Linked DNA regions of Homo sapiens. The protein of the gene in region 3 interacts with the protein of the main gene of each other region in a pairwise test. Each region holds a gene or a part of one and is shown on either strand. Other genes may lie near its edges. The genes, in order: VAX1, ZBTB47, DVL3 and UTP3.

The links.
Region 1: the proteins of DVL3 (region 3) and VAX1 interact in binary tests that used the Homo sapiens proteins (3 or more experiments, as listed by UniProt).
Region 2: the proteins of DVL3 (region 3) and ZBTB47 interact in binary tests that used the Homo sapiens proteins (3 or more experiments, as listed by UniProt).
Region 4: the proteins of DVL3 (region 3) and UTP3 interact in binary tests that used the Homo sapiens proteins (3 or more experiments, as listed by UniProt).

Annotation. Positions count from the first base shown.
Region 1 is NC_000010.11:117,135,251-117,142,166, forward strand, and holds the start of VAX1 (ventral anterior homeobox 1), read right to left. Parts: upstream 3,021-6,916; 5' UTR 2,807-3,020; coding exon 2,566-2,806; intron 1,410-2,565; coding exon 1,222-1,409; intron 1-1,221. UniProt on the Homo sapiens protein: Transcription factor that may function in dorsoventral specification of the forebrain. Required for axon guidance and major tract formation in the developing forebrain.
Region 2 is NC_000003.12:42,656,694-42,663,717, reverse strand, and holds part of ZBTB47 (zinc finger and BTB domain-containing protein 47), read right to left. Parts: intron 5,444-7,024; coding exon of another isoform or gene 5,363-5,443; coding exon 3,890-5,362; intron 2,234-3,889; coding exon 2,086-2,233; intron 707-2,085; coding exon 591-706; intron 1-590. UniProt on the Homo sapiens protein: May be involved in transcriptional regulation.
Region 3 is NC_000003.12:184,151,208-184,158,377, reverse strand, and holds the start of DVL3 (segment polarity protein dishevelled homolog DVL-3), read right to left. Parts: upstream 3,002-7,170; 5' UTR 2,743-3,001; coding exon 2,582-2,742; intron 1-2,581. UniProt on the Homo sapiens protein: Involved in the signal transduction pathway mediated by multiple Wnt genes.
Region 4 is NC_000004.12:70,684,031-70,691,067, forward strand, and holds UTP3 (something about silencing protein 10), read left to right. Parts: upstream 1-4,501; 5' UTR 4,502-4,647; coding exon 4,648-6,087; 3' UTR 6,088-6,521; downstream 6,522-7,037. UniProt on the Homo sapiens protein: Essential for gene silencing: has a role in the structure of silenced chromatin. Plays a role in the developing brain. Part of the small subunit (SSU) processome, first precursor of the small eukaryotic ribosomal subunit.

The DNA.
Region 1 (6,916 bases), on a different chromosome or scaffold from region 3:
TTCTGCACCTCTTCTCACCAGATAGCTGCATTGAAGGGTCTGGTGATACTCTTAGTTTATCTCTCCACTGGTCTGAGTCATGAACTTGGAATCATGGGAGAAAGTCAGGAGGCTGAGGTGGATTGAATATTCCCCACTAACCTCCCCTCTCATTCTTCTGCCCCTCTGCAGGCCTAGCAGTGGCCCAGAAGAGTTTTGCAGCAATAGGCAAAGACTATCCTATCTAGATTTTATAAACTAAGAGGAGTAGTAGCAGAGAGAATAGAAAAAGCTACCATACCAACTCAAACTCAAAAAGAACACCCCTATCTGTTCTGTCAGTCCTCAGCTTTCAGCCCAGATCCCGGACCTAAAATGCTCTCCACCTGCTTCAGGGTTGGGCATGGGGAAAAGGATCAGTCTTCAGAAAGAAGGCTGCCGTAGCTAGGCCAAGCTGGTGACATGCCACTTGGCAAGTTCTTGGGTCCTCTCCTGGGCCCAGAGCCCACATGGCCAGCTCCAAGGGGCATCATATGGATTTAATGTAAAGGGAAAGATCTAAAGCACAATCAGCAGTACTGGCTTCTGGGTCCTAGATCTCCTTCCCATCACACACCTCACACATCACTGGCCCAGAAGACAGGGTCTCCTAGGTGCTCAGGGCTGGGGCCAGCTCAGAATGGGGAAAGCCTTCCTTTAAGGGTCAGGGCAGCCTGATCTGCACAGGCAGATCTCCAGGAGGGCGTACACCTAATTCCTGGGAATCACCCATGGTGCTGGGGCAGGGGGTGTTAGATCTAGCCTCACTCCTGTAGAATGGGCCTGGACGCTGAGTACAGCTGGGTGGGCCCACAAGGGGTGGGGCCTAGAAATCTAGCCAAAATGGGGTACCCCAAACAAGGGCAAAAGTCAGTTCTTTGTAGAGCAGAAGCTCGAAGGAAATGCTCAAAACCGGGGGACAATAAAAATTCCAAAAGGACAGGATTTGGGGCCTTCTGGGCCTAGGCCAAGGTGGATAAAACATGGGCCCTGGAGGATTTGGGGATGGCAGGAATGGTGGGGGGAAAGGATGTATTATCTAGGGGAAGGAATCCTTAGGCCTGTCTTACCCATCCTTCCCATCTCCTCCACCTCCCAAGGGTAGTTCTGTCCAGAGCAGGTTAGGAGGTGAAGAGCAGGCTAGGTAGGGGTGGTGGGGAGGAAGGCTGGTGCAGAACTGTGTGCGGCCTGGTCGCCGGGTACCTGGGTCTCGGAGAGGTTAAGCTGCCGGGCGAGCTCGGTCCTCTCGCGGCCCACCACGTACTGGCAGCGCTGGAACTCCATCTCCAGCCGATAGAGCTGCTCCGCGGTGAAGGACGTGCGCGTCCTCTTAGGCCGGTCCAAGTCCAGGCCCTTGGGCAGGATGATCTCTCGGATGGACCCCTTGGCATCTGGGGAAGGGGAGATGTCAGCCGCCAGAACCCTCCCGTCCCCCTCCACCTCCTTGGCCCGAGCTGGATTTGGGGACACAGTCCCCAGAAGCGTGCAGTTTTGGGGATGGGGGGCGGGGTGCGGAGCGCGACCACAACCAGGTAGCAAAGACACTGTGTGGAGGGCAAGGGGCCTAACTCCATACCGCTGACCGAAGGAGGGACCACACTTTGTCTTTTTGTAGAGTCCTCCAGACAGGGGAGAGAAAAAAATCCAATCAATTCCACATAGGCGGACGTTTCTTCCGGCCTGGGGGGGCCTCGGCTGAGCCTTCCGGGTCCCCTGTAGCCTGAGGGTACCCTTGTCGCCCCGCCCGGGTCCTGCGGGCCCCAGCTCTGGGCTTGCCGACCAGACCGTGATCCAGACGTCCCCACCCCCACCCTCGAGTCTCCTTCCCTCCGGAGTCCGCGCGGCGGAAGGAGGAGGGACTGAGTCGGGGCCGGCCGGGCCCGGAGATCTGCTGCTGGCTGGGGCGGCGCCGGGCCGGGGCCCGGCCTCGCAGCCTCCGCCGCCGGGGCTAAGTGCACGCCGCGCCATCCGAGAGCGGCAGAGCAGAGCACCAAAGCGGCAACCGCGGCTCCGTAACCAAGCCCAGCTGCCTCTCCCGGCGGCAGCGGTCGGGCACCGATCGCGGCCGTGGGGTCCTCGGCCCAGTGCACTAACTGGCAGGGCCGTAGCCCGCGATCGGCAGCTGTTCTCCGGGGCTCGCGTTCCCCCTTGGGTGCGCTCAGCCCTCCAGAGCGCGGGAGTCCCCTGGCCGGCTCCCGGCAGGTCGTCCGGCCCTTGGAGCGCGCACACCTCCTCCCGGAGTTTTCTGCTCCTTTCCCGGGTCGGAGGCCGCAGCCCGATGCCCGGCCGCACCCGCGCAGCCCCTCATCTCCCCCCGCAGCCCGGTCAGCGGGGCCCCTCCGGGCGTGGAGGGCCGAGGCCCCTGGAGAGCGCACCGGAGAGTCCCAGGCGCTTGTCCCCAGCCGGACTCGGGGCGGGGAGGGCCAACAACTTTCTCCCAAGTCCCAGCCGGCACTCCTTCCCACCGGCCTGTGTCGGCGGCAGCGCGCAGCTCCGGCCCCGGAGTCGACCCCAAAGAACGCGCCTGGCAGCCCTGCCCATCCCTACCTCGGACCAGGATCCGGCGGCAGTAATCCGGGTCCGCTGCGGAATTGGATTTACTTTTGTTACAATCCTCAGCAGCGCCCGACGCTGAGAAGGCGCCCTGCGGCTCCTTGAGGAAGGCGGCTGGGAGGTTCCCCTCCGCGCCCTTGCTCTCCCGACTCTCCTTGTGCGCGTTCTTCGAGACCCGGGCAGCCTCGGCGTCCGAGTGGCATCGAACGTCCATTTTGTCTGGTTTCCCGAACATAGGCAAGAACAACAACAAAAACAGAAAGGAAAAAAAAAGCAAAAAAAAAAAAAAGGGGGGGGGGCGGAGAAGGAAAAAAAAAAGAGGAAAAAGGGGACAAAACCCCCGACAACGCGGCCCGTACGCCCGGCCCGGCGACAGGCAAGGGGCAAGAATGAATGTCCCCGCGGGGAGGCTTCGGCGGCCGCGCGCGGGTCAGCGGCGACGGGAGAGTGGCGCGCTCGCCGAGAGGCGGCCAGTCTGGTCCAGGATCCTGGTGGAGCTGCGGCGAGGCCGCCTCGTCAGCACCCGCGTCCTCTGAGCACGTCCAGTGTCCCCAGCCTGGCGATCAGGTAGCGAACAGCGCAACTCCGAAATGCTGCGGCTCCCGCCTGTTTCTGAGACGGCGAGTTGTAGTTGTCCGACACCCGGGGGGACGCACACTCGCTGTTGCAATTGATTACGGGTAATTTCGCAGCCCCCACGTTTCGGTTACCTCATGAATACACTAAATTGTTTGGATAATATATCAGATCGTAATGGATGGTTTCTGTCCTTGTCCCCAATCAAGTAGGGGTTTAGCCAGTGAATAAACGGAAATGATTGGTCTTGCTTTCAGGAAACACACAATCAAAGACCCACACTTCCAGAAAAACTTTTGACAAGATTCATCCTGAATTGTTAGTACCATTAGCAGGCATTATTAACTTTCCTTTTGCCTTTGACCCTCCTGCTCACATACTGGCTAGAGGGGTTTTCTCCACACTCGCCAGATAGAGCTGAATGAGGGTTGGGCGGCGGGGGGGTGTGGGGGGAGAAAAAAAAAACCCTGCGCACCCTGCGGCAGAAGAAAGCAGTTGTCTGGGAGTGGGGGATGGGGGACAGAGCGGGGGGAGAAAGTTTTCCCAAAAAGTATCTCCCTTGCACTCTAAAAAAGCCAAGATTTTCCCCTAAACAACTCCTTCTTAACACACCTCGACGCAGACAGCCATCTTAAACTGCCACCTCTCTTCATTTAGTTCCAGTTGGATTTTTTCATGCCTGCACCTCCAGCAGCCCTGAGGCAGCCCATTCAAAGGGCAGCTTTGTACTCAGAGTCCAGCAGGAGAGAGAGGGGGAGAGGGAGAGACGGCCGAGAAATCTCAACTGTGAGATCTGCTTCAAAAAAAAAAAAAAAAAGTTTTCCCCTAGCTATTTCATTGTCTCTGCTACAATATCTTTGAGAAAAGCAACAGCCAGTAATCCAATAAGAGCATTGATTAGGCTACAATGATTCAATTCAAGCGCATGGCCTTGTGCAAGGAGCATGCTCCAGCCCTTCTCGTCACCTTGCCGGGGCAGAAGCCCTCTCCACGCCGCTCTCCCCATTCATTCCTTTATGGGAAATGCGGAGCAAAAGGAGTGAAAGATGGCAATTATCTAATTGGACTATTAACAAACAGTCCTCTGAGTGCGGCGGTCTGGCGTGGCTCCTGGGCGGGGGAAGGGCCGTGTTCCCTGCCCTCATTCACAAAGAGTGCAGGGGCCGGGGAGGAAAGGGGTTTTTTAAAGGGGGTGGGTGGGGGGAGAGGAGAGGTGGGAGGTTTGGCTGAGAATTTTTCCACACAATTCCAAGAATGGGGCGGAGGCGGGGGGAGGGGAGGGGGTTGGGGAGGGGGTCGCGGCGAGCGGGTGGGAGGAAGGCCGGGAGGGGGAGGGGTGCGAGTGTGTGTGGCGGGCCCCTAGGGGCTCCAGCTCGCAGCGACGCGCGCACCGTCCGCACCTCCCGCCCCGCCGCCACCTCCCCTGCCTCCGCCGCCACCCCGCGGGACCCCTCTACCGTCCCAAGCCAGGAGGGGGCCCCCTGAGCGGGGTCTTTCGCGCTGTCCACCCAGCCACCCCTCCAGCCACTTAGGGGCACCCAGGTTTGGCCCAGCTCCGGAGGGCATCTCTGGCCCTGCAGGCCGACATCAGGCTTCCACTTTAGTTGACTGGGCGGAGCGGTGGAACTGTCCCGAGCTACTCTCCGCAGGGCGGCGGGTTTCCAGGGTCCCCAGCGGGCTGATCGCCCCTCAGCCCGGCTTCGCTGCGCACGCTGCCCTCGAAGTCCGACGCCGACTGGGCGCCCGGGGAAAGTGCCTTTGATTACGAGCTCTGCTCCGGCGGGTTGGTGAGGCGGGTGGGAGCAGAGACGGGTAAGAGGGGTAAGGGACTTTGCGGCCACCCTGTTCTGAAGATGTAGAGTGGGATTGTGTTAAAATCCGGCGAACTCTCCTGTTACCTCCCGCAACGCTCAAAAGCCCAGACTGGCGCCTTGAGGCACCGAGGGCTTTGCTCCCATGCGGCCAAGCCGTCGGGGGTGCAGCCGCCGGGTCTTGACTCCCACTACCGCGTCGCGGGTGCGGGTCCCTGGGATTCGGGTCCTCCTGATGGGGGTCCCTGCAGCAGATGGGGCATTCACTTCCCTGCAGAGCTCGGCCCGAGGGAGCTCCTGGGCCTCCTTGGGCAGGGAGGGGTGCGACCGAATTCCCTGGCACACCGGCCCTTCCTTGCCCCCTACCCTGGAGGGGTTGGAGGGGTCGGACCCTCGGACTACGCGAGATCGGGTGCGCAGGAGGATTCTAGGCCTTCCTCAGCCCTTTAGGAGCCCTGCAGGCGGCGGAAGTCCCAAACCGCAGCCTTGGCCCAAATGGGACCCAGATGGCTCTGGGTCCCCGGCCCGGCCGCACCCCTCTGTACGGCCTCCTTCTGTCGGTGAAGGCCGCAGCGGCCTGGGAAACCCATGCGGACACCTGCGGCGCCCGGTCAAAGACCTGGAAGAAAGCTTTTTAAAAAATAAAAATGGCCCAACCCATTACATTTTCTTTTAGGTAGATGGGGGAGCTGGGGGGCGGGGCGGGGGCAGTCAGGGAACAAACAGCTGCCCTTAGAAATGACACGCCCTGTGGGCAATGGCGGCGCTGGGACGTCTGCAGCCGCATTCACTGCCACAGAGAACGGCCAAAGTATGGCCAAATCCCAAATGCAAATTTTAAGTTTGGCCTCGGAAATTTCTGCCCTCCCTCATCTTGTGGCATATTTTGTTGTAAGGGGGAACTATTTGTTTGTTTGTTTGTTGTTTGTCTGAGACGGAGTCTCACTCTGTCGCCAGGCTGGAGTGCAATGGCGCGATCTACGCTCACTACAACCTTCGCCTCCCGAGTTCAAGAGATTCTCCTGCCTCAGCCACCTGAGTAGCTGGGACTACAGGCGCGCGCCACCACGCCCAGCTAATTTTTGTGTTTTTATTGGAGACAGGGTTTCACCATGTTGGCCAGGATGGTCTCGATCTCTTGACCTCGTGATCCGCCCGCCTTGGCCTCCCAAAGTGCTGGGATTACAGACATGAGCCACAAAGCCCAGCCTGTTTGTTTGTTTTTTAAACTTACTTATTTTTGAGACAGGTTCTCGCTCTGTCGCCCAGGCTGGAGTGCAGTAGCACCATCACGGCTCACTGTAGCCTCGAATTCCCAGGCTCAAGCGATCCTCCCACCTCAACCTCCTGAGTAGCTGGGAGTACAGACGTGAGCCAACGTGTCCAGGGGAATTATTTATGAAGCAGTCACTTACTGGATGCATAAACTCACTTAATCTGAACTCCTCCTTCAGAGATGTAGTAATATTCCGGTTTTATAGGTGAAAGAATGGAGACTCAGAGAGACGTTCAGTAACTTGCCCAAGTCACACAGACTGGTATGAGCAGAATTTGAATTGACTTCTGCCTGACTTCAAAGCTATTTATGCTCTTCTTTGCCACACCCCACAAGACTGCCCCATTTTTAGTTCCAAACCCATACTTGCTTTGAATTTTCCAAATCTTCAGGTGATCATGTGTGTATCAAAAAGACACAGAGCAATGACTTTAATGTTAATGCGAGGAATCCTTATTATTAGACATCAATTTTCACAAATTTTATCTAAACAACAGTAAGTAGAAATGGAATCATGAAATTCTTGTTTCTGATGATGCTATTTATTTCTGGCCATGAGCATTTATTAGGAGTTTATCACTCATCTACTAGCTGATTGGGGGTGAGTAAAAAATCATTTCCTGGGTTTCAAACTTACAGAATGATCATCTGAGAGCAGTGTCCAGGAATTTGCATTTCTAGC
Region 2 (7,024 bases), about 140 Mb from region 3:
CACAGGGCCAAGGAGGGACACACTCAGGGGCTCCTGGGCAAGGAGATGGGGACATGAGGGCAAGCCGAGGTGCATCTGGGTGGGCAGTACATGGGCACAAGAGGAGAGGCCACAAGCACCCAAGGCTTAGGTGGGGAATGGGGGTCGGAAGTGGGAAAAAGCCAGAGAGTAGAGGGAGCCCCATGCTTAAGGCACGAGGTCCCTCATCCTTCCTCCTGATCAGACGCCCAGCCCCTGCCCCCACCTCCCCACCTGCAGCTCTGTTGTCTCATCTGAGCTCCAGGCCTGGGATGCTCCTGAATCTGCCTCCCCAGAAAGCCTGCTCCTAGGGCTGTAGCCCACACACACTTCCCACCCTGAGTGTGTGGGGCTGGGTTGGGGAAGGAAGGGCAGGATGGGAGTGGGCCAGAGAAGAGTAGGGGCTGGGTGGGAGTGGGAGGCAGGGGCTGCAGACCTCAGAGGGCAGGGCTCTCTCTTTCTGGACACTACATTCCACCCCCTAGCCCTTTGTTTTTCAGCAGCTGCGCTCCCTGATTCCTGCCCCTCCCAGGTGACCCCTCGGGCAGGCCAGGCAGGAGATGGAAGCTCACCTCACATCTGAACGGCTTCTCCCCTGAGTGCTGCAGTGAGTGCACCTTGAGGGACATGCTGCGCTTGAAGGACTTTCCGCAGGTCTCGCAGGTGAAGGGCATGTCCTTGGTGTGGGCTACGAGGTGGGCACCAGGGCCATCATGTTTTACGGGCCTGCCCAAGCACCCCGACGTTGGGCCCAGACCCTGCCTCCTGGGGCAGCCCTGTGCCACCACCCTTCTCTGGGGCTGGCCTTATACTCTGTCCCAGGACCTGTGCTGATTCCCAGGAGAGGCCCCCTGCCTCCATGGCTGGGTCTCCTATCTGCTCTGAAGGTCTGCCTCAGACATGCTGGGGCTCTGTGGTTCTTTAGCCTCTGGTCAAGGGAAGTGGCCAAGGCTGCCTTGCCCCCAAAGCTTCAGGGAAGGATGGAAGGACCCTGGGTGGACCTGGCTTCAGCTCAAATCCCGGCCCGACCACTGGCTTCCCACTCAGTCTCTCTGGACCTCCGCTTCCTCTCCTATAAAAAGGGACTCATAGTGGTCCTGAGCTTCAGGGGTGGTGGGCTTTAGAGGGGACATATGCAGAAAGGCCCTGGTCTCAGGCCCTAGCCAGCAGTCTGGAGGAAGTTAGCTGCACTCCTCCCAGCACCCACGGATGGGTGAGGACTAACAAACTCTTCAAGGATCTGGTAGGTGGCCACTGGAGACAGAAGGCTCACCTTCAAGCTCACAGACACCAGTCCTGGTTTACCCAGCATGCTCCTGGCTGAGACCTAGGCCGCAGGGTCCCAGCTTCCAGTCAGTTCATGCTGGAGGGCCCCCAGCACTGTCTCATGGAGAAAGGGATTAGGACCTGGCCAGGGGCTCACTGTCTGCCTTGGCTACCCCTCCCCCTCAAGGCCCAGACTTGGAGCGGGCAAGGAAGGCAGGGCTGTAGGGACATGAGGCTCTGCCAGGCCCACATACAGCAGGTGGGCAGCCTTGCCTGGGGCAGTGGCGTGGCCAAAACACACAATTGGGGGACCTCCTTACTGTGTCCAGGCATGAACCCTGAGGGGAGGCTGCATTCAGAGAGGCCTGAAGCCCTATGAGGACCAGAAGGTAAGAAAGAATCAGAGGCACAGCTGTCATCAAACTGACACAGGGCCTGTACCAGCCCATACAGCACTTTGTATAATTAGGAAAAGGTATTCTTTTCCCTGGGTGGACACGAGCCCGTGCCAGGATGCACAGCCTGGTTAGCAGTGTGCCAGCTTGATTCCGGTTCCCACCTGCCATCTTGTCCAGGCACCCTTGTGCAATGTGCAGCCTGCCCAACTGTACATGCCAGCCCTGGCCCCAGAGCCTGTCCAGGCTACACCTGCCACTGGAACCAACCTCCCCAGGCCTCCTAGCTGAGAGGGGCCTCCTCACCCCTTCACATTGCCCTTGGATGTGAAGTCTTTCCCATCCACCAGCCAGAAGCTGGTCCATCTCTATCCTCTGGCTCCATCCCCCAGTGGCCCAGACTTACCAACCATGTGCTTACGCACGTGGGCCATGGTGTAGAACTTCTTCTCACAGATCTCGCATGAGAACTTCTTCTCTGCGTAGCCGTGCACAATCTTGTTATGCTCATGGAGGGACCAAAGCTTCTTGAAAGCTTTGCCACATGTCACACACTGCAGAATAAGAGGACTTGAGGCCCTGGGTCCTGAGTCCCCAGGGTCTTGGACTTGGGCAAGCTACTGCCCCCGTCTGGCCTCAGTTTTCCCACTTGAAATATGCTGGAGAGCCCTTGATGCCAACAGCCAGCCAGCTCTGATGTTTCTAAGGTTGGGGATGAAAACTCCTTAAACACCCCCAAACACACAGCCTGGTGTCCTCCTTCATCCTTGAGTTAACTAGGGTCAGGGGTCACCTCTTCCAGGAAATTCCCCACTCTGGGCTCATTTCAACAAGGGCTTCCAAAGGCATCACCCTTTGTCTGTCTATAGAGGTAAGGCAGACAACTAGCTGAAGGGCGCCCTCTGGTATGGAGGCTACACGCAGAGATAACAGGTCCCACAGAGTGAGCCATTATCACTGCTGCCTCCTCCTGCTGGGACCTGTGCCATGACACCATGAATATCGCCAAGAGGATGAGTCCCAGAGGCGTTGGCTGAGGAGGACAGCAGGAGGCTCAAGGTCCCATCAGGCACAGAGAGTGGTGGGGGATCTTGGGGACCATATCCCCCCATTTGTTCTCCTGGACCCTTGTCCTGCCCATCTATGCAGGACACCCCACAGGGATGGAGGCTAGGCCAAGGCTTGGGCAGAAATTGGTCAGGGTACTCAGGTTGGATGGGGCAGAAGCTTCTTTTTCCTTCAGGAGGGAGACTCAGGTGCGCAGCAGTTAGAGCATCAAAGGGCAGCCCAGCAGGCGGGCAAGTGGGCACAGGTACACAAGGGTGGGGCAGGATAGCAGGTGACCCCCGGGTAACACTTTCTCCACAGGGCACTGCAATTAGCAATTAGCGCAGGCAATTAGCACCCACCTACCTGCTACCTTTCCCCCTTCTCCTGGGCCAGAAGAGGTGAAAACCACCCGTGGGAGCCTGGCTGGCCCTGTGCCACCCCACCCTGAGAAGTGAGGCTGGCACAAACAGACTCAGGCTGGCTCAAGGCCCAGCAGCCAGCTCAGCTCCCCTGCTTACCCCAGCAGCCTCTGCTCTTCCCAAATTTCTCACCCAATCCCTTTTTCCCAGGCCCATGGGAGCTGGCATCCCCAAAGAGCTGAAAGTGGGGGCTGCCTCCTGCTGGGCTGCCCCCTCCTCCATACAGCACTTTTGTGGGAAGTGGAGGATGGCATCCCTCTGGGCAAACCCCTCCTCCCATCGTGTGCTCACTTGCTGCAGTGCACAACCTGTGAAACTATACACAGTGGCCCTGCTGGCCTTCCTACAGCCCCCGTGTTTGTTAAAACCCCGTCTGACTCATCCCACCCAGAGTGGCCTGTCTTCTGGCCTTGTCTGCTCAGACAACTCTCCACTCTCATCCTCCCAAGTCCATGTGTCCCCTTTGTCCCTCTGGCCAAGGGTACTGTTTGTTCCAATCCTCTGCACATCTCTTCATGCGCCCAACTCTATCCACCTCTCCCAGGAAGCTCGGCTTGATGTTACCCCTGAGCTCTAACCACCCTGAGAACTGGGCCTGGGCCAGCCTGTCTGGGGGCTAAGTCTGGTCTCCGCAGACCACCTAGGTAATGCAGTCAGCAAGACACTAGGTGCCCAGAGCCCAGTTATGGCCTAGCCCCACCTGGACAGCCTCTGCCCTGCCCCCAGCCACGTGAGGCCCACCTGGATGTTGCGCTCGCAGTCTGTCTGCCTGTGCAGCAGCAGCTCGCTCTCCAGCAGGAAGCGCTTGCCGCACTGGTCGCAGATCTGCATGCGGCTGTGGGTCACATTCATGTGTTTCTCCAGGTACCAGCGGTTGTTGAAAACTCGTGGGCACTTCTGGCATGGATGGTGCTGCTTCTCCTCCAGCTTCACCTTGGCCCCCAGCCCATCAGTGGCTGGCGGCCCTCGGGCCGATGCAGAGGCCACTCCAGGGGGTGGCTTTGGCCTCTTCCCACCCCGCCGCCCAGCTTCTTCAGGTTCAGGGGTACCCCGGCGCCGGGCGTTCTCCCGGGACCGTGTGGCCATGTGACTGTGGGGAGGGGGGTCTGCCCGGCTGCTTCGGCTTCCCCGTGGCCCCTGCTTGCCCCCAGCCTCCCCCTCCTCCCCCTCCTCCTCCTCAGAGCTCTCTTGATCCTGCTCACTAGGCCCTTCCTCCTCTTCCTCCTCCTCTTCCTCTTCCTGCTCACTGTGCCCGTCCTCCTCCTCTTCTTCCTCTTCTCCCTGACTGCCACCCTCTTCCTCCTCCTCCTCCTCCCGTCCACTGCCACCACCTTCCTCTTCCTCTTCTTCCTCCTCCTCCTCCTCGTCGTCCTCCTCCTCCTCGTCCGAGTGTCTCTGCAGCCCGTCCTCCCGGCCCAGAACCACGGTGGCTGGGCTTGGCCCGGCACCTGGCTTCCCCTCTGGCCCCGTGGACACGTGCAGTGTCTGGTTGTTGAGGTTCACCTCCACGATGATCTGGGATTGCTCCCTGCGGCTGTAGGTGCCAGAACCCCCAAGCTCTTCCTCCAACTCTTCTCCACCCTCCAGCTTGCACAAGCTGGCTGGGGGCCCACCGGCCTCCTCGACACCACCCTCCTTCTCCTCCTTAAAGAAGGGCTGGGCTGGCCCAATGGTGGCAGGCACTGTGCCACCAGCAGTCCCTGCCCCGTCCTCAACACGCACCGAGTAAGGGTCAGGGCCCTCGCGGGCATAGATCTTGGGCAGGCCTGGGGTGTCGGCCTCCTGCTTGATGTCACAGTAGTAGGGCGGCGCAGCTGGAGTGCAGCTGGCAGCCGGCTGGGCCAGGGCCACAGTGCCCGGACCTGGTGGGCCTAGAGAGCGGGCGTCCAGCAGCTCTTGGCAGGACGCAGCGATGTCAGCCATCTGCAGCAATGAGGCGGCGCTGAGCACCTCGTGGACGTTGGCCGCGTTGACCAGCAGCTTGGACGTATAGATGAAGTTGAGGATCTGCTGCAGGCCACCAGGTGCCAGTGCCTCCAGGGACAGCTCCACACGCTGCAGCTGCTTGTTCTGGGTGAAGAGTGAGTGGAAGAACTGGCTGTAGGCGGCTAGCACACCCTTGTGTGCCGGAAAGACGCTGCGCTGGGGCACCAGCACCAAGTCCACGTCGCAGAGGTCAGGCTGGAAGAGGCGCTGCTCGTTCAGGCGGCCCATCAAGCAGGCAAAGTGCAGCGCCACGTCCTCCACCAGCGAGAACTCAGCCGCCGGGGAGTCAGTTGTCTTCTCAACCAGCAACTGCGGGGACAGAGGGCACAGGAGTGGGTCAAGGCCAGTGGGCCCCTGCCCGCCCTTCCCCCAGCACCACTCCCAGCATTGCCAGCCATCCAGGAGGCAGCCCATCACTCGTGGCTCCACTTTACAGCAACAGAGCCGAAACTAGCAAGGAAGGGATTCAAGCCTGAGTGAGCTGCCTCAGAGCTCAGGCTCCACTCGTGACCCTCTGAGGCTGAAGATCAGGTCCTGTCACTTTCTGGGCCTCTGGGTCATCTCCTGGGAAATGGGAAAAGTCATCCCAGGAAGGGAAAGGGAAGGAAAGGGGATGAAAGAGAGACCACAGTGACCAACCATCCAGGTTTGCCAGGGACCTGGGCATTTTCTGGGGTGCAGGGCTTTCAGTGCTAGAACCAGGACCATCGCAGGCACACCGGGACCAGGTGGTCACCCCAGGAGGGCCACAGGCATTCCTTCAGCATTTCCTCAGCCCCGTGGATTCTCTCCACATATTCACTCACACATACCAATAAAAGCAAGCTTGCCCAGCCCCAAACACCTCAAGAACAGAAGCCGGGCTCACTGCTCACTGCCCAGTCTCTGGCTACAGAATCCAAGGGGTAGCACCTGAGGGAACCCCTCATCGCAACAGCCATGTGGCTGCTGCAGAAGTTGAAACCTGTGAAGAAATCCAGGCTCAGGGCCTATACCTTCTCCCCACTCTGGTCCTGCTGCACTGCCTGGTGAGGTCTCCTCATCACAGCCAGGGCTTGGGCCAGGCTGCCCCCAACCCCTGCCTGCAGCCTCAGGCCTAGCCCCCAGCAGCTCTCTCTCACTCAGGGGCTCTGCAGGGGTGGAAGGACACAGCTGTGGAACCTGCCTACCATGCTTGCAGGCAGGAGGCCCCCAAGGCCTGCCCCAGATCCTTTTCCCGGTAGACCCCCAGACCCCAGGTCAGGTACGGTCCATGTCCACAGGCTCTGGGAAAGCCCTGCCTTAGAGGCCACACCATCTGGGGCTTCCAGAGCCCTAGCGGAGGCCCTCAATGTCTGATGGGTCAGACTATCAGGCCTGTGGGCCACATCCAGCACCTGTGAATTGCCTGGAATAGAAGCCAACTCAGTCACCCCGGCTCTACCACAGCAGCCTCCCCAAAAGGTGGGCAGCACAGACAGGCAGCCTGCCCAGTCCCTGCACGAGAACCATCACACAGTGATGTGCAGATGTTGTTAATATCCACCAACCACCAGCCCAGCTGGACCAGCACCACTGGTTCCAAGTTCTGGCTCTCCTCAGGGCCTGCCCAACCAGGTCTGAGCCTCCTGCATTCGGGAGGTACCTTGCCACAATATTTTGATGGCCACAAAACCATCAGCTCCATAGCTGTCAGTGCCTCCCTGGGGACCCTGGGATGAATCCTGGCCCCATCCATCCACAGCCTACCGCCCCCCTTCCCCATGCCAGGCCTTCCATCGCCAGGAGAGCAGTGGGTAGGCTGGGATTGGGCAGGGGTGGTGGTGGTTGAGCTCCACTTCTCAGTCACCTGAATGAGAAACCTACCGTGGGCCTCAGCAGGAGCCTCCCTGAGCCACCAGGGGCCACCTG
Region 3 (7,170 bases):
TTACTTAAGCTTTCTGTGCTCTAGTTTCCTTTTTTTTTTTTTTCTGAAACACGGTCCCACTCTATTTTCCAGGCTGGAGTACAGTGGCACCATCACAGCTCACTGCAGCCCCAAACTCCTATGCTCAAGTGATCCTCCTGTCTCAGCCTCCCAAGTTGGGACTACAGGCACAAAGCATCATGCCTGGCTAATTAAAAAATTTTTTTGTAGAGATGGGGTCTTGCTATGTTGCCAAGGCTGGTCTCAGATTCCTGGCCTCAAGCAATCCTCCCACCTCAGCCTCCCAAATTGCTGAGATTACAGGTGTGAGCCACCATGCCTGACAGAGTTTCATTTGTAAACTAGAGATACTATTACGCTATCTATTTCATAAGGCTGTTTCGAAGATTAAATGAGTGAAGATTTGAAAAGCATTTAGATTAGTCCCTGGCACACTAAGCATAAAAGGCGTGTGTTAAATAAATGAAACATATATATATGCTCTTCAGCTATTAGTCCTCTGTGACAAGACAGCTCTATCAGTTCCCCTGCTCATTTATCCTTCTGGGGATACAAACAGAATCCATCTCCTCCACTTCATTTTTAATACTGTTTTCAACCCTGCTAAAATGGTCCAACTCTGATTTTGGTTCAAGTACCACTGATGTTTGCAAGATGGCTTCAGGTGGCACACAGATTAACATTGCTTAGTTCAATCATTAAATATTTATGTTAAACATATTTTAGAAAGAAATATAAACAGAAAAGTCAGACCTATGGTTTCATATTATTGCTTGGTTCAAGCTAAGAAAAACAGTAAGTGGACTGACAATGGATTTAAAGAAAAATATTAAGTAACAGTGACTGGATGTAATGGGGGCCCTCTTAAAACTGCAGTTAGGCCTTGGGATTGGGAGAGCAGCCCAGAGTTGTCCAGGCTTAGGAGGCAGGGGCCAGGTCCAGTGGGTCTGGAGATAAGTACAGGGTGGAGAGACAGCCTATCTTAGTCCCTCAAGGCATCTGGATCTGAGGTGGCCCCAGGGCACTGGACTCTGGCTCATCTTCCCCCATTCCTTATGTGGAGGCAGTAGCTTGATCCCTTCTAACCCTATTCTTCTCTTGCCAGGCCAAAGTATCCACCCCCTCACCCAGACCCCTTCTAGATCCATCCCTCCTCAGAATCTTCCAATTAGAGGTGTCTGTCTCTGGGCTGAAGGCAGACAATCATTATCACACCAGGAGCACCCCACCCCAGGGCAGGAACAACAACAGAAACAAGAATAGTTAGAATCTACAAAGCACTGCCCACTGTACAAAGCACTCTCACACACATGATTTCAGGGGCTCATCCAACCCTGAGTTCCAGGGCAGAAGGTGACAGCAAAACATGCCAGGCATTAGACAGAAGGTGCTTGCTTCCTAGTGCTAGGTGGGCCAGGGGCTTGGGAGAGAAGCCAGACAGATGAACACTGGGGAGAAGAATGTCTCCTCTTGGCTGTGGGGCCTCAGCTCCAAAGAGCAGTGCAGGCCTCAGGCTAGGGCTGGAGAGGCAGCCTTCAGGCCTGGAGGGGCCTTCCCCACCGCCTCCAGGCCCAGCGCCCAGTTAGTGAGGCGGCAGGCAAGTGTGGGCGCCTCCCCCTCCCCCAGTCTCCTGGGAGTTGGGGGGGTTCGAGGGGGATCAGCCAGGCCCCCCTCTTCCCAGGCCAGCTGCTTCAGAACCTTCCGGCTCCAACATTCCATCCCCTCTTAAAGGGAAAGTGACTGCTTCCAAACTGTGCCTGTCCAGATCTCTGCAGCTGGGTGGAAGGGAAGACCCCACCAGGGAGGGGAAGATAGAGAACACCAAGAAACTCTTCCTGGCTATCCCACCCAGGCCCCAGGCCCTTCCTAACGTCTCTCCACTGGCCACCAACTGGAGGAAAAAAGCCCGAATTGGAGGAAAGATCAGCACCTGGGTCAGTGAGGACTACTCCGCAGGGGTCAGGCTCTCTGTTCCGGTGACAACACCCACAACAGCCCACAAAGGAGAGGGCAGGCAGCTAGATAAACATCAGATCTGCAGACCCCGCTCGCGGCCAGGCGCCCGAGCACCCCCGACACCCCTCCCCCAGCTCAAAGTCCCAGCAGAGCCCTCAGATGCAGCATACTCCAAATATGGCTGGGAGCTGTGCTGCTGAAAAGATGAAGGGGGCGAAGAACGAGGGCCACACGACCCAAGTCTGTGCGGAAAAAGGTGGCTCTGGCTCCTCGGCAGGAGGAGGATGGGGGACTCGGGCTCTGAAACTAGGTGGAGGGGGGGTGTGTCTGTCTCTGTGGGCCACTGGTCTCTGAAGAGGTAAGGGGACCGCACCGGCAGGAACTCTGATTGCTAGTGGGGAATTGGACGTCCCCTTAAACAAGGGAGGCCAACGTCCCCTCTTCAGAGGTAAACGGGAGTTGCTACTGGGGCTGGAACCAAAGGGGCCCAAATGGGCCGAGTCGCCCCTAGAAGTCAGAGCGGGGCTAGGAGCCGGTGTAGCGAGGCAAGTCGAAACGGACCGCGTCATCCCTTAGAAGCCAGAGCGGCCGGGGCTCCCGGAGGCGGGGCGGGGGCCATCCTCACCCGAAATCGTCGTCCATAGACTTGAAGAAGAACTTATAGCTGGGTCGCTGCAAAACGCCCTTAAAGTCCGCCAAGGTGACGCGCTCGGCGGGCAGGGGCAGCTTCACAAGGTACGGCGTCTCCTGCCCATCCAAGTGGTAGATGATCTTGGTCTCGCCCATGGCTCTGGCCTCGGGCCCGGCGGCCCGCGCGCGGCCTGCTCGGGCGGCCGGGCCGAGCCTCCCAGACGGCGGCGGCGCGCGGCGCGGCCCAGCGGCTCAACCCAGCTCGGCGGCTGCTGGCGGCGCCAGCTCCCTTGTTCTCCGGCCGCTACCGGGTCCCAGCGCCGCCCGCCGCCGCCGCGGCCGCCGCTTCCGCTCCCCACTCTCCCGACTGGACTGGCGACCGCGACTCTTCCGGTGGCCGCGGCCCTCCCGGCCCAGGGCTTCGTCCGGGCCCGCTCCCCTCCTCCGGCCCGGCGCGGCCCCGCCCCGGCGCGCCCCGCCCCCGGCCGCCGCGGAGAGGCGCCGGCGTCGCGGCAGATGGCAGGGTTTCCCGCCCACTGGCCGGGCCGCGGCGCTCCGGTCCCGGGTCCCTAGAAACGGAAGGGGAGATTCACCGGGATGGCGGCGTTCCCGGACCCCTGAAGGCCCTGACTCCGGACCCAAGTGGGATCGGCGACTCCTCTGCAGTCCAGGAAGAGTGGAATGCAGGGATTGCTTTGGTCCCCAGAAATGGTCTGGGGAAAGAGGGTGGGTCTGACTCTGGATCCCTGGAGGAGAATGACCTCAACATGGCCCTTCAGTGTTTCTTGAGAAGCACAACTGCTGTCACTGAGTCTACTAAACTGATCTCGAGAGAAGGACAGCATCCAGTTCTGATTCCTCCCTATAACCTTAGCGTCCAGTTGCAAGGTAGTGGTTTAATAAATGGGTTGAATGCGGAATAAGTGGGGCCCGGGCGCGGTGGCTCACGCTTCTAATCCCAGCACTTTGGGAGGCCAAGGCGGGCGGATCGCCCGAGGTCGAGAGTTCAAGACCAGCCTGACCAACATGGAGAAACCCTGTCTCTACTAAAAATACAAAAAAATTAGCCGGGCGTGGTGGCGCATGCATGTAATCTCAGCTACTCGGGAGGCTGAGGCAGAAGAATCGCTTGAACACGGGCGGCGGAGGTTGCGGTGAGCCGAGATCGGTGAGTCGAGATCCTGCCTTTGCACTCCAGCCTGGGCAACAAAAGTGAAACTCCATCCCCCCTCGCCCCCCCCCAAAAAAAAAGATAAGTGGATGCATGCATGCCTAAGACAGTAAGTCTCAAACCAGAACTCCAGAACTAGGTATAGCCGGTTCCTCACAGATCTCCTCACCCCTTAACTTTTAATTCATTTAATAAATACTGAAGGCCTACTGTGTATAAGGCATATCGCATGAGATATAGCGATAGCGAGACAGACAAGGCTGCTCTCAGGACCTTCCCTCAGCTGGAGGGAAGCACATAGGCTTGTAAATACATAACTTCAGAGTGACCACTGCTATGAAGAAGGTAAAACAAAGTGATGGGATAGTGACAGGGGAAGCCAGGCGCAATGGCTCATGCCTGTAATTCCAACATTTTGGGAGGCTGAGGCAGGTGGATCACCTGAGGTTAGGAGTTCGAGACCAGCCTGGCCAAAATGGTGAAACCCCGTCTCTAGTAAAAATACAAAAATTAGCTGGACATGGTGGCGCATGCCTGTAGTCCCAGCTACTCGGGAGGCTGAGGCAGGAGAATCGCTTGAACCCGGGAGGTGGAGCTTGCAGTGAGCCGAGATCCCACCACTGCACTCCAGCCTGGGCGACAGAGCGAGACTCCGCCTCAAACAAAAACAAAAACAAAACAACCAAAACAAAACGAGAAAGAGGTTTCTGATTGGTTAGAGAAAACTTCTTCCAGAAAAAAAGACCTAGAAATAGCAAGGATGAAGTGGCTATGAGAAGATCTGGGGTGACAGCCTTCTAGGCAGAGGGCACAGCCAATATACAGGCTCAAGGCAGGAATAAACATGTTACATTTGAGGAATAAGAAGGCCATCATGACTAAAGGAACAGTCCTAGGTGAGGCTGGAAACATAGACCCGCCAGATTACATAGGGCCTTGGATGCTATGGTCTTAAGTATGGGCTCCTTCTACTCCATTTTATACACTGTTGCCAAATTAACACTAGAATAACAACATCATTCAGATACCTCTTCTACTCAGAAACCTTTCCACATTCCCCAAAGCCCCCAAATATCCCTATTCAAGGCCCCCCATAATCTAACCTCTACCTACTTTTACAGCCTTTTGTCTCATATCCTGGCCAAATTTTTGACTCCAGGAAAATGAACCCACTTGCTAGCCCCTGCACACACCTTATGTATATCGTCACTTCATACCCTTTCCTTCACCTTCTTTACATTTTTTATCAAAGTAATATGTTTGGAAGTCAAATAGTATTTAAACAGCTTTTTTTTTTTTTTTTTTTTTTTTTTTTTGAGATGGAGTCTCACTCTGTCGCCCAGGGTGGAGTGCAGTGGCACAATCTCGGCTCACTGCAAGCTCCGCCTCTTGAGTTCACGCCAGCCTCCCGAGCAGCTGGGACCACAGGCGCCCGCCAAATTTTTTGTGTTTTTTTTAGTAGAGACGGGGTTTCACTGTGTTAAACAGGATGGTCTTGATCTGAACTCGTGATCCACCTGCCTCGGCCTCCCAAAGTGCTGGGACTACAGGCGCAAGCCACCACGCCCGGCTTTTTTTTTTTTTTTTTTTTTTTTTTTTTTTTTTTGAGATGGAGTGTTGCTCTGTCGCCCAGGCTGGAGTGCAGTGGCACGATCTTGGCTCACTGTGAACTCCGCCTCCCGGGTTCATGCCATTCTCCTGCCTCAGCCTCCCGAGTAGCTGGGACTACAGGTGCCTGCCACCACACCTGGCTAATTTTTTACATTTGTAGTAGAGATGGGGTTTCACCGTGTTAGCCAGGATGGTCTCGATCTCCTGATCTCGTGATCTGCCTGCCTCGGCCTCCCAAAGTGCTGGGATTACAGGTGTGAGCCACCGTGCCTGGCCCTTAAAAAGCTTTTTAACAAAACAGCAGTCCTCCTTATTGGTATAGTGGTGAGAAAAACAAAACAAAAAACCCGAGCAATTCTTTGTCCTATTTCCCTACCACTCTTAGTACTTTTTTTTAGCTCATAATACTTGTTCTTGATTTATACATTTTAGACATTGCTTATTGATTTCCAAATTTGATTGATGATTCTCTGTCTTCCACCTTACCCTTCCCTCTTAAAATAGTGAAAGCACACTTTTTGGCTAAGTCAATATAGTACTTAGTAGTGACCTTATTTTGACTATGAGCAAATGTTCACCGCTAAGTCATGTGGAGTTTTTTTTGTTTTGTTTTTGTTTTTGTTTTTGATGGAGTCTCACTCTGTCGCCAGGCTGGAGTGCAGTGATGTGATCTCAGCTCATTGCAACCTCCACCTCCCGGGTTCAAGCGATAATTCTGCCTCAGCCTCCGAGTAGCTGGGATTACAGGCATGTGCCACCATACCTGCCCAACTCATTTTTGTATTTTTAGTAGAGACAGGGTTTTACCATGTTGGCCAGGATGGTCTCAATCTCTTGACCTCGTGATCCACCTGCCTTGGCCTCCCAAAGTGCTGTGATTACAGGCATGAGCCACCGCGCTGGCCTCATGTGTGTTTTATAATCGTTTCCTTTACAACTTTTTTGTTTCCTCTGACTTTAATCATTGCCTTGTGTTTTCATTTGTTTTAATATATTATACCTATCATTAGTTTTTCCCATGTAATCTAATAGTTTCTCAATACACATTTTGTTCATTCAGTCAAAGCTATTAGATAATCCATCAGTTCAATTTTTCCCTGGAGGCTTCCATCTTTTTTTTTTTTTTTTTTTAGATGGAGTCTCACTCTGTCGCCCAGGCTGGAGTGCAGTGGCGAGATTCCGGCTCACTGCAACCTCTGCCTCCCAGGTTCAAGTGATTCTCCTGCCTCAGCCTCCCAAGTAGCTGGGATTACAGGCGCCTGCCACCACGCCCAGCTAATATTGTATTTTTAGTAGAGACAGGGTCTCACCATGTTAGCCAGGCTGATCTGGAACTCCTGACCTCAGGTGATCGCTCGCCTTAGCCTCTCAAAGTGCTGGGATTACAGGCGTGAGCCACCACGCTTGGTGGAACCTTCCATTCTTTTGCTCTGGTCTGCACCGCCGGCTATCTCAGCCTGTGCACAGCTGTCATCCTGGGACTTCTCTGCATCCTCAAAATTCCCTTTACCTGTCTCTGTGTTGAATCTGTTTCCTGGATACTTTACTCCTTTGTTTTATTTACCTGTTTATTGAGACAAGGCCTTGCTCTGTTGCTCAGGTTGGAGTATAGTGAGGTAATCATGGCTCACTGCAGCCTCAAACTCCTTGGCTCAAGCGATCCTATCGAAGTGCTGGGATTATAGGTGTGAACCACCGTACCCAGCCAACAATAAATTCTTGAATTAAGACCAGGTCCATGCCTGTAATCCCAACGCCACTGCACTCCAGCCTGGGTGACAGCGACACTCCTTCTCAAAAAA
Region 4 (7,037 bases), on a different chromosome or scaffold from region 3:
TTTTGTTTGCTCATTTGTTTTTTAATTAAATCTCAGGTGCAGTTAATTATTCTCCTCAGTTCCTGACATTATTATTGGTCTGTGGAAATGTCCTCTTCTATTCCTTTTAATCTCCAACCCTTATCCCATTCTTCATCTTCCACAAACAGCTATTCTTTTGTGTTTAATGTATATTATTTTGTTTGATTATATTCCTACAAAATGTGTATTGTTACATTATTGTGCCTGCATTTTTAATTTTTGTGAATGGTATATTATTTATTACATTCTATTTTTTACTTTTTTCCCTTAGCACATTGTTTTAAAAATCCATTCATGTTGCCATATGGATATATAATCTACTGCTTCCAATTACTATATAGTTAAAATCACTATAAAATGTATCATCTTAGCCAGGCATGGTGGCTCAAGCCTGTAATCCCAGCACTTTGGGAGGACAAGGGGTGGATCACCTGAGGTCAGTAGTTCGAGACCAGCCTGGCCAACATGGTGAAACCCCGTCTCTACTAAAAATACAAAAATCAGCCAGGCGTGGTGGCAGGCACCTGTAATACCAGCTACTCGGGAGGCTGAGGTGGGAGAATTTCTTGACTCTGGGAGGCGGAGGTTGCAGTGAGCTGAGATCGCACCATTGCACTCCAGCCTGGGTGACAACAGTGAAACTCTGTCTCAAAAAAAAAAATTATCATCTTAATCATGAGAGTGAAAGGAGGTGCTATTAATAATTACACTGGGATAACAGGTTAAACAGGGCCATCCAGGGCAAGCCAGAATGTATGATCACCCTATGCTCCTAAATTCCATGCTGTTCTTCCACAACATTTTATTGATCTGCTCTTCCAGTGACGGATATCCAGGTTGTCTCTAACTCGCTGCTACCAAAAATAACTTTTCAAATAGCTTCGCACAGGTCCCCTTATGGATGGGCTTATGTGAGAATTTCTTAACCAAAAAGATATCTGCAATGATTTATAAATTTCTGATACAGGTAATTCTGAACACCCAGAAGATTGGTAAAGTGACAAATGAGAATAAAGCATAGTAGAGTACTTAGCTTAGCATTGAAGGTTTTTGTAGTAATGAAAGGTATGACTGGAAAGGTTGTTTTGGGGTAAAACTTTAGGACAGCCATGTATGCTGTAAATTTTGTTAGTAAACGAAAGTTTTTACTATCTGGATAGTAAATGAAAGTTTCTGAACCAGGATATGCGGTGACAGAAATGATATTCTAGGAAGATATATCTGATGTACCAGATCAAATGTACCAGAGACTAAAAGGAGGAGACCTATTAAAGGAAAAGTTGAAAGCCAGTATAGTATAGTAGTTAGTTATAGCACAACATGGATTCTGAAGCTGGACTGTTCTAGTTTAAATCTAGTTCTAACACTTATTAGCTTTATGACCTCACTTAAGCTATATGCGCCTAATTTTCTCATCTCCAATTACAGATTATTATAGTAACTTTTCACAGGGTTATAATGGTTTCAAGAGCTTGTAATGGTATCTAGCACACAATAACCACTCTCAATGTTAGCTATTATTAATTATAATTGTTTCAATAGTCCAGGAAGAAATAAAGATTAGTTTAAGCTAATGTGATCATACAATACCTCCAACACCCAGAATAAATGCCCTGAAAGAAGTATCCTAATGTATCATCACCTAATGTGTCATTCATAGACTCCCTAATTTCCATAGTAAGAAAATCCCATAAAGGGCTTAGAGTAAGGCAAAAACAATTTTTTTTTAACCTGCTGGCTCTCATTAGTGTAACTTGCTAACTCCTGAGCCAGACATCACAATAAAATAAAGATTCAGATTGGCTGGGTGCGATGGCTCACACCTGCAATCCCAGCACTTTGGGAGGCTGAGGTGGGCAGATCACCTGAGGTCAGGAGTTTGAGACCAGCCTGGCTAACATGGTGAAACCCCATCTCTACTAAAAAAAAAAAAAAAAAAAACACACAAAAAAATTACCCAGGTGTGGTGGCAGGTGCCTGTAATCCCAGCTACGTGGGAGGCTGAGGCAGGAGAATCAATTGTTCTTTATCAAAAGGATCTGAAAAACTGGGTGAAGCGGCACGCACCTTTAGTCCCAGCTACTCAGGAGGCTGAGGCAGGAGATCACTTAAGCCCAGGAGTTCTACCCAGCCTGGGGAACACAGCAGGCACCTGTCTCTAAAAACAAAGGATCTGAGAATGTTAGAATACGATACTCTCTGAATATGCATTGAATACTGCAACTCTGTTCTGGTTAGGAAATTTAACATTTAGTATAAACTAAATAATATTAATGTGATCATTCCCATTTAAAATATCCAAAATATTTTTCTAACTTATATATAATAGTATATGCATTTTAGTCTTGAAGTCTGACACTAAATTCTCAAATAATTTGCAATAAAAATGAAAAATTTTTATTTATGTGCCTAAATGCAACAGTGTTTAAATAATGAAAATTTAACATTTAAAGTAAGGAAATAACTACAATTCCAGCATAGATGTCATATTCTTTAAGCAATATTCCCAAAACAGCAATCTAAAGGTTATCTCTTATCCTTCTGTTCTCTTACAGCACCGGGTTTACATCATACACTGCCTTGTATTCCAGTAATCTGTATGAGTGTCTTCTTTTCTACCTGATTATACAGTCCTTAACTGGCTGATTCATCACTATTGTCTGTAGCATTCTACAACAAACAGTAAGCAGTTAATATCTGCTAAATGACAAAATGTACTAAAATTTACATTAAAAAATAAATTCATGCTTACCATCAGAACATAACTTTTGCCCACAACTTTCTAATTTAATTTTATTTTCTAAAATCTTGTAAAAATTTCAAAATGTTTCGGACACCTTTAGGCACTTGGAAAATGTTTATTTCAAAGTATCACTTTTCTAACATTTTGCATTATTTTTATTAACCTAATGACACTATACTTTCTGAAAAGAAATTGTCACCATTGGCTGGGCGCGGTGACTCACGCCTGTAATCAATCCCAGCACTTTGGGAGGCCGAGGCGGGCGTATCACGAGGTCAGGAGATGGAGACCATCCTGGCCAACATGATGAAACCCCGTCTCTACTAAAAATACAAAAATTAGCTGGGAGTGGTGGCGCGTGCCTGTAATGCCAGCTACTCGGGAGGCTGAGGGAGGAGAATCACTTGAACCAGGGGGTCGGAGGTTGCAGTGGGCCGAGATTGCCACTGCACTCCAGCCTGGCAACAGAGCGAGCCTCCGTCTCAAAAAAAAAAAAAGAAAAAAAGAAAAAGAAAAAAGAAACAAAAAACAAAAGAAAAAGAAATTGTCACCATTAATTTTATTTTATTTATTTATTTATTTATTTTGAGACAGAGTCTCTGTCTGTCGCCCAGGCTAGAGTGCAGTGGTGCGATATCGGCTTACTGCCACCTCCGCCTCCCGGGTTCAAGTGATTCTCCTGCCTCAACCTCCCGAGTAGCTGGGATTACAGGTACCCGCCACCACGCCCCGCTAATTTTTTGTATTTGTAGTAGAGACTGGGTTTCCCCATGTTGGCCAGGCTGGTTTTGCACTCCTGACCTCAAGTGATCCACCCACTTCGGCCTCCCAAAGTGCTTAGGATTATGGGCATGAGCCACCGCGCCCAGCCATGTCACCATTAATTTTAGCAACGTATCAAAAGTTCAGCTTCCAACTACCTACATTAAAAGGTATAATAATACTAACCCTGAACCTTACATATGTAATGCCTAAAAACTTACACCCTGAATTACTCTAACATTACAGGGCAGACTTCCTTGAGAAGAGTCAGACCCTGCAGCGGGGCTCTGCCTTCCCACTGTCAGCCTCGGGGTCATCTAGCTTTATCGATCCCCATGGAGCGGGTCACCGAGCCCTGTGAGCAGGGAGAGGGCGATGGGGATGAGTAAACCCGAGCCGGAGGCCCGGCCTGCGCTCTCGCCCGGAAACCTCCCGTGGGATTCTGGAGTCCAGCGGCGCTGCCTGAGGCTGTGGTACCCAGAAATATGGTATTGGGGGTGGGGGTGAAATGAGAGGAAAGCAATCTGATTAACTTCCAGCCTGATAAGCAGAAAAGAGAAAACAAGGGAGCAGGAAAACTACGCTAGCACTAGACTGCCGGTCGCAAGCGCCGGGTACACACGCAGTTAAACCTCAATGGAACGCCCCCGGGACTTCTCCGGGGCGTAAAGCGCAGCGCCCTCTATTGGCCATCGGGACCTCGCCTGGAGGTGCCGTCAGGATTCCGTCCCCCAGCCACTCCCAGGCACTCGAGAGTAAGCGCATTAGCCCGAGAAAGCGTTCTGTGGAACGGAACTTCCTTATCCTATCGTTTCCACACGGAAAGATTTTAATTCACCGGAATCGACTGGCGTTAAAGGGCACAGTGAAAAGGAAGTTGGTATCAACGTGATCTCGACTAAGGGACCGAGCGGAAGTCCTCAATCGTACGCCACGCGGAGAGCATGCTGGGGGCCGGAAGGAAGAGGAAATTCCAGTAGCCGATCAGGAGTCTGCAAACTCCGGTGGTAGGGGAGCGCGCTGCTGTTTAGAGCCACGAGTTACCGGAGCGCCTGATTCCTGCGCCGAAGTCAGTGGTGGCCGAAAGTCCGGAGTCGCTGTAAAACCTGAGATTGTGAGCCATGGTGGGGAGATCCCGGCGGCGCGGAGCAGCTAAGTGGGCAGCTGTGCGAGCCAAGGCAGGTCCCACGCTCACCGACGAAAATGGAGATGATTTAGGATTGCCACCCTCACCAGGGGACACCAGCTACTACCAAGATCAGGTAGATGACTTTCATGAGGCACGATCCCGGGCCGCCTTAGCTAAGGGCTGGAATGAAGTACAGAGTGGAGACGAGGAGGATGGCGAGGAGGAGGAGGAGGAGGTGCTAGCCCTAGATATGGACGATGAGGACGACGAAGATGGAGGGAATGCGGGGGAGGAGGAGGAGGAGGAGAATGCCGATGATGATGGTGGGAGCTCCGTGCAAAGTGAAGCTGAGGCCTCTGTGGATCCCAGTTTGTCGTGGGGTCAGAGGAAAAAACTTTACTATGACACGGACTATGGTTCCAAGTCCCGAGGCCGGCAGAGTCAACAGGAGGCAGAGGAGGAGGAAAGAGAGGAGGAGGAGGAGGCACAGATCATTCAGCGGCGCCTAGCCCAAGCGCTGCAAGAGGATGATTTTGGTGTCGCCTGGGTTGAGGCCTTTGCAAAACCAGTGCCTCAGGTAGATGAGGCTGAGACACGGGTCGTGAAGGATTTGGCTAAAGTTTCAGTGAAAGAGAAGCTGAAAATGTTGCGAAAGGAATCACCAGAACTCTTGGAGCTGATAGAAGACCTGAAAGTCAAGTTGACAGAGGTTAAGGATGAGCTGGAGCCATTGTTAGAGTTGGTGGAACAAGGGATCATTCCACCCGGAAAAGGAAGCCAATACTTGAGGACCAAGTACAACCTCTACTTGAATTATTGCTCGAACATCAGTTTTTATTTGATCCTGAAAGCTAGGAGAGTCCCAGCACATGGACATCCTGTCATAGAAAGGCTTGTTACCTACCGAAATTTGATCAACAAGCTGTCCGTTGTGGATCAGAAGCTGTCCTCAGAAATTCGTCATCTGTTGACACTTAAGGATGATGCTGTAAAGAAAGAACTGATTCCAAAAGCAAAATCCACCAAGCCCAAACCAAAGTCTGTTTCAAAGACTTCTGCTGCTGCCTGTGCTGTTACAGATCTTTCTGATGATTCTGATTTTGATGAAAAAGCAAAACTGAAGTACTATAAAGAAATAGAAGACAGGCAAAAGCTAAAGAGAAAGAAAGAAGAAAATAGCACTGAAGAACAGGCTCTTGAAGATCAAAATGCAAAGAGAGCTATTACCTATCAAATTGCTAAAAATAGGGGACTTACTCCTAGGAGAAAGAAGATTGATCGCAATCCCAGAGTGAAACACAGAGAGAAGTTCAGAAGAGCCAAAATTAGAAGAAGAGGCCAGGTTCGTGAAGTTCGTAAAGAAGAGCAACGTTATAGTGGTGAATTATCTGGCATTCGTGCAGGAGTTAAAAAGAGCATTAAGCTTAAATGAAGTTTTTGCTTAGCATAAGGTTTTTGGCAGTTTTGGATCAATAAATTTTTACTTTTAACTAAAGTCATTGTATTAATATATAATACTTTAAATTTTAAAAATTCTTGTCCACAAGGAAATTTGTCTGGGTTATTGGACAATTTATAAGAACTATGGGAGCAATATGAAGGTGCTTGAGAAAAGAGATGATGTTGAAGTTTTCCAATATTCTGTTGAAGTTTTCCAATATTAAGTATTAGCTTAGGGAAATTTCACAGTTCATTGTGGAGTGTTAAACTTAGAACATGTGTAACTTTTCACATAAAGAGAATGCATCTTTGACAGTTATCTTATTTGTAAGGCAGCCTATAAAATAGTTCTGAAGTATTTTATTTACCTAACTATAATTATTGGGCCAGATACTTGTTAATAAATGGGCTTAATGTTAACATGGATTTCATATGTTCTGTGTGGTTTAAAAGCATAGGAATGAAACTTTGGTTAAAAGCAGAAAAAGGAAAAGATATGCCTTAATTACATCAATTGTCAATATTTTCTCATAGTTCTTCATGTGGCAAATAAGGTAAAAATCCCATTTCCCCTTCTTTACTGGTGATTTGCAGTGGTTGCTGCTTGTACTTGCACTCCATTTGCTAAAACTTTGATATGATTACTACCAGGTAAGTGGTAACTTTAAGTGGCAACAAAGTTCCATTTTTCTTTTTTTTTTTTTTCGAGATTGAAGTCTCACTCTGTAGCCCAGGCTGGAGTGCAGTGGCAGGATCTCTCAGCTCACTGCAACCTCCACCTCCCGGGTTCAAGCGATTCTCCTGCCTCAGCCTCCTGAGTAGCTGGGATTACAGGTGCTTGCCACCACGCCCAGCTAATTTTTGTATTGCTAGTTGAGACAGGGTTTCACCATTTTGGCCAGGCTGGTCTCGACCTCCTGACCTCAAGTGATCTGCCCGCCT